3 separate regions of the Homo sapiens genome follow, and all the other regions are reported to be linked to region 2. Evidence: microRNA targets listed by miRTarBase, many of them from high-throughput screens and not tested one by one. Region 2 holds a microRNA gene; each other region holds the end of a gene's coding sequence.
The links. Region 2 holds the annotated microRNA hsa-miR-938 (UGCCCUUAAAGGUGAACCCAGU, at 2,232-2,253, shown strand). A microRNA usually pairs through its seed, bases 2 to 8, with sites in the 3' UTR of a target mRNA and lowers its output. Matches are read on the target gene's strand: a 7mer-m8 pairs with bases 2 to 8, a 7mer-A1 pairs with bases 2 to 7 and ends in A, and an 8mer does both.

Region 1 (4,139 bases), not on the chromosome of region 2:
CACTGCACTCCAGCCTGGGTGCTAGAGTGAGACCTTGTCTCCAAAAAATAAAATAAATACTAAGTGTGGAATTCAGTGGCTTCTAGTGCAGTCACAGAGTTGTACAGCCAAAACCACCATCAATGTTAGGAAATTTTCATCACCGGAAGAAGCCTTGCGCCCTTTTGACATTGCTTCCCTGTGCTTCTGTTCCTCCAAGCCCTGGCACCTATTAATTTTTCTGTTTCTGTGGATTTGCCTATTCTGGGCATTTCATATAAATGGACTCACACAGGCTGGCACAGTACCTCACATCTGTAATCCCAGCACTTTGGGAGGCTGTGGCAGGTGAATCACCTGAGGTCAGGAGTTTGAGACCAGCCTGGCCAACATGGCAAAACCCTGTCTGTACTATAGATACCAAAATTAGCTGGGCGTAGTGGCACACGCCTGTAATCTCAGCTACTTGGGAGGCTGAGGCAGGAGAATCGCTTGAACCCAGGAGGCGGAGGTTGCAGTGAGCCAAGATCGTGCCACAGCACTTCAGCCTGGGTGACAGAGTGAGGCTCCGTCTTAAAAAAAATCAATAAATAGAGAAAACAAAATATTTGTAGATAGTAAAACAACAGTGTCATTTAATGAAAGTGCGGGCCCTGGAATTTGGATCCCGGCTCGACCACGCTCCAGCTCTGTGACCTTGGGCAGCTTTCGTCTTCCTGAGCCTCAGTTTCCTCTTTGTAAAATGGGATGATGATGGTGGCAACCTCTCCAGTTGTAATGATTCTGAGGTGTCCGTGGGTATTTGCAAATGCTCAGTAAATGTTGGCTGTTACTATTCTTAGGTGCAGGCTAGAGCATTTCTACGTGGCTTGAGAGGTGCATTTCTGTAAATGCTCTTAGAAAGTGACCTTTGCGTCAGATGGAGACCATCCTGGCTAACATGGTGAAACAGTGTCTCTACTAAAAATACAAAAAAATTAGCCAGGCCTGGTGGCGGACGCCTGTAGTCCCAGCTACTCGGGAGGCTGAGGCAGGAGAATGGTGTGAACCCGGGAGGCGGAACTTGCAGTGAGCTGAGATCGTGCCTCTGCACCCCAGCCTGGGCGACAGAGCGAAACTCTGTCTCAAAAAAAAGTGACCTTTGCTTTCTTTGTCTGAGTGCAGGCTCTGGTGGTTGCTGGGATCTCTCTCCAAGCTGCAAACCTGTATGGCTACATCCTTTGTAAGATGGGAGGCAACAGTGACATTGGCAAGGTCACAGCCAGTTTCCTGTCCCAGACAGTGTTCCAGACGGTGAGTAACTGAGGTCTGACTCTTGGACCACTCCTCTCCAGGTAGTCAAAGTCAAGGTGGCCTGCTGGCAACTGCGGTTTGTAATGTAACATATCCGCCAGGCTGCCAATGTTTTATTGTTTATATATTTTTTGGGAGACAGGATCTCGCTCTGTCACCCAGGCTAGAGTGCAATGGTGTGATCGCGGCCTATTGCAACCTCCATCTCTTGGGCTCAAGCGATCCTCCCACCTCAGCCTCTGGCACAGTTGGGACTACAGGTGTGTACCACCATGCCTGGCCTTTTTTTTTTGTAGAGACGAAGTTTTGCCATGTTGCCCAGGCTGCTCTAGAACTCCTGAGCTCAAGCAGCCCGCCTGCCTTGGCCTCCCAAAGTGCTGGGATTACAGCCATGAGTGAGCCACTGTGCCTGGCAGTTTTGTTTTTTAATTGTAAGATTTACATAAAATGTACCATTGTAACCATTTTAAAATGTATAGTTCTGTGGCATTAAGTATAACCACTTTATTGTGCAACCTTCACCCCACCCAGCTCCAGAACTGCTTTCATCTTGCAAAACTTAAGCTCAGTACCCACAAAACACTAACTCCCCCTCCTCCTCGCCTCCTAGCCCTAGCAACCAGCATTCTGCTTTCTGTATCTATTGGTTTGACAGCCCTAGGGACCTCCTATAAGTGCAATTATAGTTTTTGTCCTTTTGTGACTGCCATTGTTAGTTTTCAGTGATTTTTAAAAGTATAGAATTAAGGAAAGAGTCACAAACGGTTTTTCAATTTTTTTTTTTTTTTTTTTTTTTTTTTTGAGATGGGAGTCTCACTCTGCTCCCAGGCTGGAGTGCAATGGCATGTGTTGGCTCACTGCAACCTCCGGCTCCGGGTTCAAGTGATTCTCCTGCCTCAGCCTCCCAAGTAGCTGGGATTACAGGTGCATAACACCATGCCTGGCTAATTTTTGTATTTATAGTAGACGGGGTCTCTCCATGTTGACCAGGCTGGTCTCGAACTCCTTGCCTCAAGTGATCTACCAGCCTTGGCCTCCCAAAGTGCTAGGATTACAGGCGGGAGCTACCGTGCCCAGCTTGTTTTTGTTTTGTTTTTTTTTTTTAACTTAATAGATATTTCTAAAAGTGAGAGACAGAAGTCTTTGAAATTTGACCAGGTTCATCCTGAAATGGGTAGAACCGTCCTAAATTTGAACAGCACTGCTTTATGCCAAGACATCAAGCAACCAATTCCGCAGGTTTTCTGTACTTTGTGGGTTTTCTCTGGCCTTCCATCAGCAGGATCGCCCCACTCGCGTGTAAGGACAGAAAACCATGGTTGACTTTTCCCCTTGCAGGCCTGCCCAGGTGACTTTCAGAAGCCTGGCCTCGAGGGGCTGGAGATTCACCAGCATTAGGTGAGAAATGGATCATGGCACCCGTGTGGAGGAACTGGGGAATTCTGAAAAATGCAGCTCTTGGGGCACAGGGGCCCGGGGTCTGGGTGGGCTTCCCCTGTTCCCTGGGGTGGCCAGGCATGTGACCAGGCAGGAAGCAGACTGGGCAATGGGCCTGCCCTGGGCTTTGCAGCCTCATTGCTCTTGGCGTGAGGAGCTGGGGGTCGGGGGGCGAGGTCACACCTTCCTCACACTGAACATGTGCAAATCTGATCATATGTATGGTCCTAGGGAAGGGCGGGGAGGGAAGAGACAAGGGAGGGAAAGAACAAGGGGATTTGTTCTTGTTTCCCACCCACCCACTTTTATGCCCCAGAGTGGAGGGAAAACAGGAATTTACTCTTCTCCCACGTGGTCTCAGATCCTGTGTGTCTCAAACAGAGCAAGCACCTCATGGCAAAGAGGATGATCGTAGAGTTTACATCTGTCCCTCTTTTTTATATAATTAAAAAACCTGAAAGTTGGTTTGCATGACACTGGACATTACTGGATATACTGTGCACATATTACTACACAGGGAATTTACACAGACCCCACATTCTGTCTTACTGGGTGATTCAAGGACTCTTCAAGGGCTTTTTGATTTGACCCAGCTGTGTCATATGCAGTGATTTTAGAACGAAGCCCAGCCTGAGCTCTGTTGCTTTTAGATTTTTCCTCAATCTGAAGAAAAGCGTTTGGACTGTGGTGTTTGAAAACAAGCCTGTGTGTTCTGCAGTGAAGCCGCACACTCACCCCTTTGGTTCTTTTCTAGGCTTTCTTATCTTCACAGGCAGAAATGGCTTAAACGGGAGTTTCTACAATCGACTAAGCTTCCGACACAGCAGAATCCCACGATCCCACAACCCATTTGTTTTTTACGTGAAACAGGCCTCGGGGGAGAGATTTGAGGGGGTTTTATTCTTAAAACGGCACATTTGTAGAGAATGCCCTTTATATATGTTCTAAAGAAAAGTGTACAAATACTCAATGATTAAAGTGTCTCTGAGAAAGTGGCTTCGGACCACACCAGCATCTGGTCCTTTTGCTGTGACCCACCCCATCCCGGAGCTGGTCGGGTCTGGCTGGATGTGCTGCCCAGTGAGTGCCTCGCTCGGTAACTGCTTGGTCCTGAACATTCTCTCGTTTCAGGAACTGATGAGGTTCTCTTCTTTTGACTGATGGAGATTACAAAACTCTTGGATTCCTGGAAAACAAGACGACAGGCATAGAGTGCTAATGGCTTGTCTACCCCTTGACAGCCCTGTCCTGTGCTGGGGAGGGCTGTGTTTTGACAGGGGTGGAATCCTCTGGCTAGTTCCATAAAAAGACCTGTGTCTGTGATGCCCTGAGTCTTTGAAAGTGACCGGAATACCTCACACTACCCATCTTGCTCATAACCAGTGGCTGCGGCCTTCCTCGGACCATCTATAGATGGAGGATTCTGGGAA
Region 2 (4,139 bases):
GTAAATAAATAAATAAAGGCACAATGAAAGATCAACAATATGGCCAGGCGCAATGGCTCACGCCTGTAATCCCAACACTTTGGGAAGGCCGAGGTGGGCAGGTCACTTGAGTCCAGGAGTTTGAGACCAGCCTGGCCAACGTGGCAAAACCCTGTCTCTTACTAAAAATACCAAAAAAAAAAAAAAAAAAAAAAAAAAAAGCCAGACATGGTGGCACATGCCTGTAATCCCAGCTACTTAGGTGTCTGAGGCATGAGAATTGCTTGAACCCGGGAGGTGGAGGTTGCAGTGAGCCAAGATGGCACCACTGCACTCCAGCCTGGGTGACAGAGCAAAACTCTGTCTCAAAAAAAAAAAAAAAGAGGAACAATAATAAATAATAAAATACAATTCTAGTAAGATACTGTAATAAAAGGTATGTGAATGTGGTGCCTCTCTTTCTCTCAAAATATCTTATTGTACTGCACCATGGATAACTGCAACCTTGAAAAAGGAAGCGATGGACATGGGGCGACTACTGTAACTGGCACCTCAGAAATGGGGAAGGGGGCGGAAATATTTCACTGTGAAATATTCTTCTGCCACTTTTTAACTTTATTCAATCACATGAGTCAAAAAATTACAAATGTAAATTGGATTTTTAAAGACTGTACTGTGGGCTTATTACATAGTCACCTTTGCGGATCAAGTCCTGACTTTATGTATGACATCTATTAGCAGCCTAATTTTATATGAATTGAATGCAATTCCAAAAATAACAGTTAGGTCATTTGAAAACATATGCCTTAGGTGCCCATTAAATGCTCTTTTCAATATCTGTTTTGTTCAGAATGTAGTCTGGCCGGCCCTGGGTGAGTAGTTCCATGAAGTAAGATACTGTGATCACTTTGAGAGGGCAGGGTCCCTTTGCTCATTCCTATATCATTTCATCACCTTCCTCATGATCCAGCCAGCTGCTCTATTAAATTTGAAAACCAAGTATGCTTTCAACCTACAGGTGAAGAAATTAGATGAACTGTCTGGCCATAAATTATAATTCTTGGGAGCCAGAGCTGTTTCACTGTGGTTGAGACCAAATTTCAAGCATCTGCTCACTGAATGCTTTTCCATTTTTGCTTTAAAAGCTTCATATGAGTACATACAGCATTTTATTTGCTTCACAGCATGCCCCACAGAACTCTTTCTTGGAAATACAGAGATTCCTATTTTTAGTCTTTCAGGAAACAAAATTACTAACTTCTCCCCCTGCTTCTCTTTTTCTTCTTTATAAAGAAGAAAGGGTTGGAAATCTTATTTGCATTTTCATTCTCTGTGATACGAGGATGAGGGGGGAGGGCAGGGTTTGTGGGGGATCTTTCACATCGTTTCTCCCAGCTGGGACTAAATACCATGCATGGCCACAGCCTTGTCCTGTTCTGCACTTGCTTTTATTTATTTACCTCCAAAGCAAAACACATCCAGCAAGGGGAAGGAGTCTCGAGTTTCAGTCGTCAGGATGGTAAGAAGTCCTTCATTATCATCTTCCTGGGCATGAAACGATTTTAAAACAACTGATATACCTCTCCCTTTCTTTTTTTGAGATGGAGTTTCTCTCTTGTTGCCCAGGCTGGAATGCAATGGTGTGATCATGGCTCACTGAAACCTCTGCCTCCCAGGTTCAAGCAATTCTCCTGCCTCAGCCTCCCAAGTAGCTGGAATTACAGGTGCCTGCCACCACGCCTGGCTGATTTTTGTATTTTTAGTAGAGACAGGGTTTCACCATGTTGACCAGGCTGGTCTCAAACTCCTGACCTCAGGTGATCCAACTGCCTCGGCCCCCCGAAGTGCTGGGATTACAGGCGTGAGCCACAGCGCCCGGCCTCTCCCTTTCTTTTTTAAAAAAATTATATTTAGTCTTCTTTCAGGCTTGACCATTTGCATCTTTAAACATTATATTGCAAAGCCACTTGAAAGCTGCAGTTTACAAATGTACATGATTGATAGGTCTATAGATTTTCATAGAAGGCCTGACTTCATAAGAATTTATAATCATGAATAAAAACATTTGCATTCTCTTTCTTCCCCCAAATCATTCTGGCAGTGAACACTTCACCTGCCCAGGCCTTTTATGGAAGAGTGTATGTAATACCTCTGAGCCTTTGGGGCCTGGGATCCAGGTTGTCCCACAGCAGAGAAGGGAGGGTGAGACAAGGCAGGTTAAGCAGGTACGGCATGTTGGAAGGTGTACCATGTGCCCTTAAAGGTGAACCCAGTGCACCTTCATGAACCGTGGTACACCTTTAAGAACTTGGTATGCCTTCATGAACACTTAAAGTACCAGGGGGCACTTCATGAAACATCATTAAGTTTCTCCTAAGTCATTGCAAAATGATCAGAACTCTTTTGTCGTGGACAGCATTTCTTTTGTAGGTGTTTAGAGTTGCCAATAGCTCCATAAATTGTTAAAAGCAAAATATTGAAATATAACCTAATAATCCAGGGCCCCATGTTTTGAAAGATCACTGCCAAATCTTTCACGTAGATACCAAATACTGTGTCAACATTTAGCTAAATCGAACTGGTGGTGATCCCAACAAGCAATGAACTGGTACAAAGAGAAACAATTAGGAGAATAAAGGACTCAGCCATCAACAAACTGAATAATGATCAAATGGACAAAAGTACAGATAATGAGGAAGAGAAGAAAGAGAGAGGGAGAGGAAAGAGGTAACCGGTGCTGAGCAGGAGATGATGCCACCTGGTAGCAGAATCAGAAGCCTGCATGGTGCGGAGTGCACTATTACAAATGTGAATGTCATCAATCCTTAGAACAACCTTAAAGTCATTGTCATTAGAAGAGGAGATAATTAGCCTGAGTCACATGGCTAAAAAGCACTAGAGCTGGGCTTTGAACTCATGTCTGATGAGCCCAGGCTCTTACTCTCCAGGCTGTTCTTTGCATTTATGGTAGGCCGTCAGTCACCTGTTTCTCTCTGCATCAGAGCTGAAAGCCACAGGTTCAATCCTGAAATGCGCCTATGGCAAGAACCTCATTCTATATAGTAGTTGCAAATTGTGCCTCAGGCTTAAACCTCTCCTAGAACTGGGGACAAAAGTGGCTAGATGCTATGGTGAAAGAATATGGATAGTTCAGTTTAAACACATTTCTACTTTTAAAGAAAGAATGCATTAATGCATTATTCTCCCTAATAACGATTTAGAAGCATCTTGTTGATAGATACAGAGGAGCACATTTTAAGCTTTATAATTTTCAGTTTCAGCTCTGGAATTGGGTAAAACTGATGTGTACATTGGTTTTAGGTTAAAATGTGGCATGTAGCATTTTGGAAAGCAAAGTGAATAAATAAAAATCCAGGGGGAAATTTTTTTTCAATGCTTTTGCTCTAGGAACTTATTTATGCTGGTATCATTAGCTGTTTTTCTTGGATGACCAATGTCTATAATTGTAGTCACATATTTCTGAGATAGGATGAAAACCACAACAAAATACAAACCTTTCAAGTCAGCACATAAGTTATGTATATTAATGACAGGGAGAAATGGAGCCAGGAAAAGTGGTTTTAAAACCGCGCGGACACCAGGGAGTGTCTATGTATGTGGTTTTATTAAATCTGACTTCTAGAAGCGAGTTGTTCACCACTGAGTGTGAGAAAGAACCCGGAACTTCATAATCATATGTATTGACTATACTTCAGATCAGATAAGTGGTCCCATAGCACGGGTCCCTTGAAGAGAGATGCCATTGTGGGGTTTTAGTTAGAACAGTCTTTCGGTCCTTCTCCTGGTTCACAGGATTTGTTTGAATGTTGTTCTCATCACAATTCTACCCCTTCGTTTTTGCATAGGGTCCTTTTGTGCCCCAATATTTCATGTTCTGGGACTAAGAAAATGTTAATTGCCTATTCTCTAATAATATGTGTATAAAATGCATCCCCAAGTGACAAACTTTACTATGTAAATGATGCTGCTGTTTATAAAAGAAAATGGTGAGTTCTTACAGTCCTGATTTTGCCACTGACAGCACCTTAGCCAACCTGTGTGTTTCTCCATCTGATGTGGAGGTGCAACAGGCCTGGGCTGCACGCTGATTCACCTGGGGAACTTTAAAAAAATTCCCATGCCTGGGTCCCACCCAGAGA
Region 3 (4,139 bases), not on the chromosome of region 2:
CATTCCTGCCCTTTTGTAGAATGATGAAGCACTCGGGACCTCTACCAGGCAGCAGAGGGGCACTTCTGGGAGGCTGGGGTGTTCATGGTGTAGCATGGCAGGGGCCTGACTCCTCTCTGCTGCCCCAGGGCAGCCCATGGACAGCACCAGCGTGGGAGGTGGCCTGCAGGAGCCAGAGGCCCCGGAAGTGATGTTTGAGGTCTTTCCTCCCAGCCTGGGACATGGGGGTGGGCACGTCCAGAGGTCCCTAAGCTCAGGGTTGGGAAGGGGGATGTCTCAGGGTGGACCTGCTAGGGTTGGGTGGGGCAAGCCAGCATGCGTCCTGCTGCCTGCTTCTGCCCCTTCCCCCAGCCCACTCTTGCTCCCTGCCCTGCTCCCCAGGCCACAGCCCACCCCTTACATGGCTCCCCTTGCAGCTGCTCTGGGCTGGGCTGGAGCTGGATGTCATGGGGCAGCTGCACATCCAGGATGAGGAACTAGCGTCCACACACCCAGGCCGCCGACTCAGACTCCTCCTGCAGCACCACGTGCCCAGTGACTTGGAGGGCACTGAGCAGTGGCTGCAGCAGCTCCAGGACCTGCGGAAGGGGCCTCCTCTTAGCACTTGGGACTTTGAACATCTGCTCCTCACAGGCCTGTCCTGCGTCTACCGGCTCCACGCAGCTAGTGAGGCTGAGGAACGGGGCCGCTGGGCCCAGGTCTTCGCTCTCCTGGCACAGGAAACACTCTGGGACCTGTGCAAAGGTTTCTGCCCCCAGGACCGGCCCCCTTCCCTGGGGTCCTGGGCCTCCATCCTTGACCCCTTCCCCTGACCCTCCTCTTTTGTTCTTTCACCTGCCATTACCCCCTCCCATCTCCTCCTCAACCCCCCAGGCAGACCCATCTTGCGCAGGGGCTTCTGTCTGGCATCTGATTCTTTTCACCGTGTTCAGATCTCTGGGCTTGGCTTGCACCCTGGACACCCCCTCTCTGCTTACCCCGACCAGATCTTGTTTCCTAGATCTTGAGAGGCTAAGAACCCAGGCTCTGGGTCGCAAGGAGTGCGCAAGGAGTGGGCACAGAGCTAAGGGCACGACTTGCAGGCAGTGTGTGTGTGAGTGTGTGTGTGTGTGTGTGTGTGTGTGTGTGTGTGTGGAGATCAGGGGTCAGGGTTGAGAAGTGTGTTCAAGAGATGCTGAAGGGAAGCTGCCCCAAGTAAGGCCTGGTCAGACCTTCCAACTCCTACCCTGGCAGTCTGTGACAGGTCCTGTGGAATTCACAGGAATCCTCTAGGTGCTGAGCATCCCCTTTTAGGCACAACCAAGGATTTGGGGTCTCTGAGCCTCCAAGTTCCCATCTGGGTTGGGAGAATCGACTTTTTGAGTTCTGTCAGTTGGAAGAGTGGAGGGAAGCAGGGGGAGGGAGGAACATTATCTCTTTTGGGGTAGGGAGGCAATATCTCAACAAGCGTCGGGTGAATACCTCAGAGGGGGGAGTAAGGCTGGGAGACCAAGGAGAGACAAGCGGAGGTGGGCTGGAGCAGGTGTGGCCCTGATTCTGTGTTGCTCTTCTCATAAAATGTTCTGTTTCGGCCTCCTGGAGCCTGTGTCATTCTATGTCGGAATAAGCGTCTAACCCCTGCTCTGGGCAAATCACTCTCCCCATCCCGGGAAGGCAAGAGTCAGGGCAACCAGGTATCAACTCCTCATCTCATTCCCACGCCCTGCTGGAAGAAGGAATGCACTGTTTCCTTGAATCCCATGCACCCTGTGGGGTAATGGGGTGCTGTTCCTTGTCACAGAAAGGCATCAGCCGGGGGCTAAGGCTGAGGTCGTAGGTCAATGATGAGTCAGAGGGCTAGACGAGGTAGGGATATAAAAGGGAGGCCCCCAACGGACTAGGCGAATGTGGTTCCATCAAATTCCCACCTCCTCACCCTCCCAGGGTCCAAGGGGACCTTGCTTTCCAACCTCCAACCCCTTCCCCGGGCCTGCGGGCCCGCAGTAGTCAGCACCTTCCCGCCTGCCGCCGGCGAATGCGTCGCAGTCAAGACAGCGCAGGGGCCTGGGCTGCCGGGCGCTGCGCGTGCCCGCTTTCCGCTTTATTGGCAGAGTCCAGGCGCGCCCGGAGGCCGTGGCGCTCGCGCGGGACTTTCGAGCCTCCGGCCCGGCCTGGCATGCACGCCCCTGGCCCTCCCGGGCTCTTCTCTGGCCCGGGGCTCACAGTAGCTCCGAGGCCCCGAGGCCCGGCGGGGCGGCGGGGGCGAGGTCGGGGTACACCAGGAAGCCGGAGAAGGTGATGTACTTGCCGTGGTTGCTGTAGGCGCCGTAGCCGTCGTGGTCGTGGCTGAGCAGCCAGACGGCGTCGCCGCGCCGCAGGGCCAGCATCACGCTCTGGCTCTGCATCTCGCGGCGCCGCGACGCGCCGTCGTCGTAAATCATGGCCTGCACCTCGTCGCGGTTCTTCATCAGCTTAACCGACAGCGTCTTACGCGGCAGCTTGCCCAGCGTGAAGGAGAAGAAGTAGGCGCCGGGCAGACGGCAGCGGAACACGCCGGCCGCCGCGTCGAAGTCGCCGCCAATGTTGACGAACTCGGTGTCGAAGGCGAGTGGTTGGTGCCGCGGCCCGGGGCCAGCGTCCGAGCCCACCAAGCTGCGCGTGCGCGCCGCCGAGAAGGCCGAGCGCGGCTCGGGGGGCGCGGGCGGCCCGCGCGCAGGCGCGTCAGCGTCGGCGTCGGCGTAGACTAGGTAGCCGCTGAAGGTGGCGCCGGGCGCGCCTAGCGCGTACTGCGGGGCGCCATGCAGCCGCAGCCACACTGTGTCGCCGTAGTCGAGCTGCAGCATGGCGCTCTGGCTGGCTGCGCGCCGCGCGCCTGGCCGCCGCTGCTCGTCGAAGGCCAGCGCCTGCACCTCGTCGCGGTTTCGCACCAGCATCACCGACAGGCTCTTGTGCGGGGCCTTGCCAGCCGTGAAGGAGAAGAAGTAGGCGCCGGGCACGCGGCAGCGAAACTGGCCGGTGGCCACATCGAAGTCGCCCCCGATGTTCACGTACACCTTGTCGAAGGTCACCGCCATCTCCGACGTGCCCTCCAGGGGGGTGGTGCGTGCCGCCGAGAAGGCCGAGCGCAGCTCAGAGGATCCCGGGCCGGGGGTCGGGCCCAGGGCCCAGCAGGCCGCTGGGCCCAGCAGGCCCAGCAGAAGCGGCAGCATGGCGCCTGGGAGGGAGACGGAGGGGCGAGAGTGGAGTGTTGGCAGGGGCGGCTTCCAAACGCCCGGCTCTCCACCGGGAGACAAGGGTTCTCTTCCCAGCCCTGCCCTTGACCCACAAGTAGGTTTCAATTTTCCTACATCCTTGGATTCTCAAACTCTAGCGAGCCTCACTGTCACTTGGAGGGCGTGTTCAAACATACATAGTTGGGCCCCATCACCAGAGTTCATTCAGTAGGTCTGTGATGGGCCTGATAATTTGCATTTCTTTGTTTTGTTTGTTTGTTTTGAGATGGAGTCTCGCTCTGTGAACCAGGCTGGAGTGTAGTGGCACGATCTCGTTTCACTGCAACCTCCACCTCCCGGGTTCAAGCAGTTCTCCTGCCTTAGCCTCCTGAGTAGCTGACATTACAGGTGCGCACCATCACGCCCAGCTAATTTTTTGTATCTTTAGTAGAGACGGGGTTTCACCATGTTGGCCAGGCTGGTCTTGAACTGACCTCAAGTGATCCACCTGCCTCAGCCTCCCAAAGTGCTGGGATTACAGGCGTGAGCCATCGCGCCTGGCCTTGAAACCCCGCCCCCCCCCCTTTTTTTTTTGAGACGGAGTCTGGCTGTGTCGCCAGGCTGGAGTGCAGTGGCTTGATCTCGGCTCACTGCAGCCTCCACCTCCCAGGTTCAAGCGATTCTCCCGCCTCAGCCTCCCAAGTAGCTGGGACTACAGGCTTGCACCCAGCACACCCAGCTAATTTTTGTATTTTTAGTAGAGACAGGGTTTCACCATGTTGGCCAGGATGGTCTTGATCTCTTGACCTTGTGATCCGCCTGCCTCGGCCTCCCAAAGTGCTGGGATTACAGGCGTGAGCCACCGCGCCCGGCCGAAACCCCTTTCTTAAGTGAAAGCTTGAACACAGACTAGCAGAAACACTCTGGTTAAAGAGGCCTACAGCCCTG

Region 1: miRTarBase lists NUBP1 as a target of hsa-miR-938. Seed matches in the 3' UTR shown: 7mer-A1 at 3,637-3,643.
Region 3: miRTarBase lists FAM180B as a target of hsa-miR-938. Seed matches in the 3' UTR shown: 8mer at 1,065-1,072.

The regions. Positions count from the first base shown.
Region 1 is chr16:10,768,803-10,772,941 of GRCh38, reverse strand. NUBP1 (NUBP iron-sulfur cluster assembly factor 1, cytosolic) reads right to left here. Exons shown (of 11, transcript NM_002484.4): 11 at 3,591-3,895. The coding sequence ends at 3,837. It overlaps TVP23A (trans-golgi network vesicle protein 23 homolog A), which reads left to right. Exons shown (of 8, transcript NM_001079512.4): 6 at 1,144-1,272; 7 at 2,611-2,670; 8 at 3,841-4,139. The coding sequence ends at 2,670. Among named protein-coding and RNA genes, the nearest start is that of NUBP1, 27 kb to the right of the region's middle.
Region 2 is chr10:29,600,425-29,604,563 of GRCh38, reverse strand. It overlaps MIR938 (microRNA 938), which reads left to right and starts at 2,218; the gene lies at 2,218-2,300. The region is part of intron 1 of SVIL (supervillin); the gene reads left to right.
Region 3 is chr11:47,587,623-47,591,761 of GRCh38, forward strand. FAM180B (family with sequence similarity 180 member B) reads left to right here. Exons shown (of 3, transcript NM_001164379.3): 2 at 129-199; 3 at 417-1,572. The coding sequence ends at 812. C1QTNF4 (C1q and TNF related 4) reads right to left here. Exons shown (of 2, transcript NM_031909.3): 2 at 2,045-3,193. The coding sequence starts at 3,188. The coding sequence ends at 2,199. Among named protein-coding and RNA genes, the nearest start is that of FAM180B, 3.0 kb to the left of the region's middle. RefSeq lists a silencer at 1,586-1,786.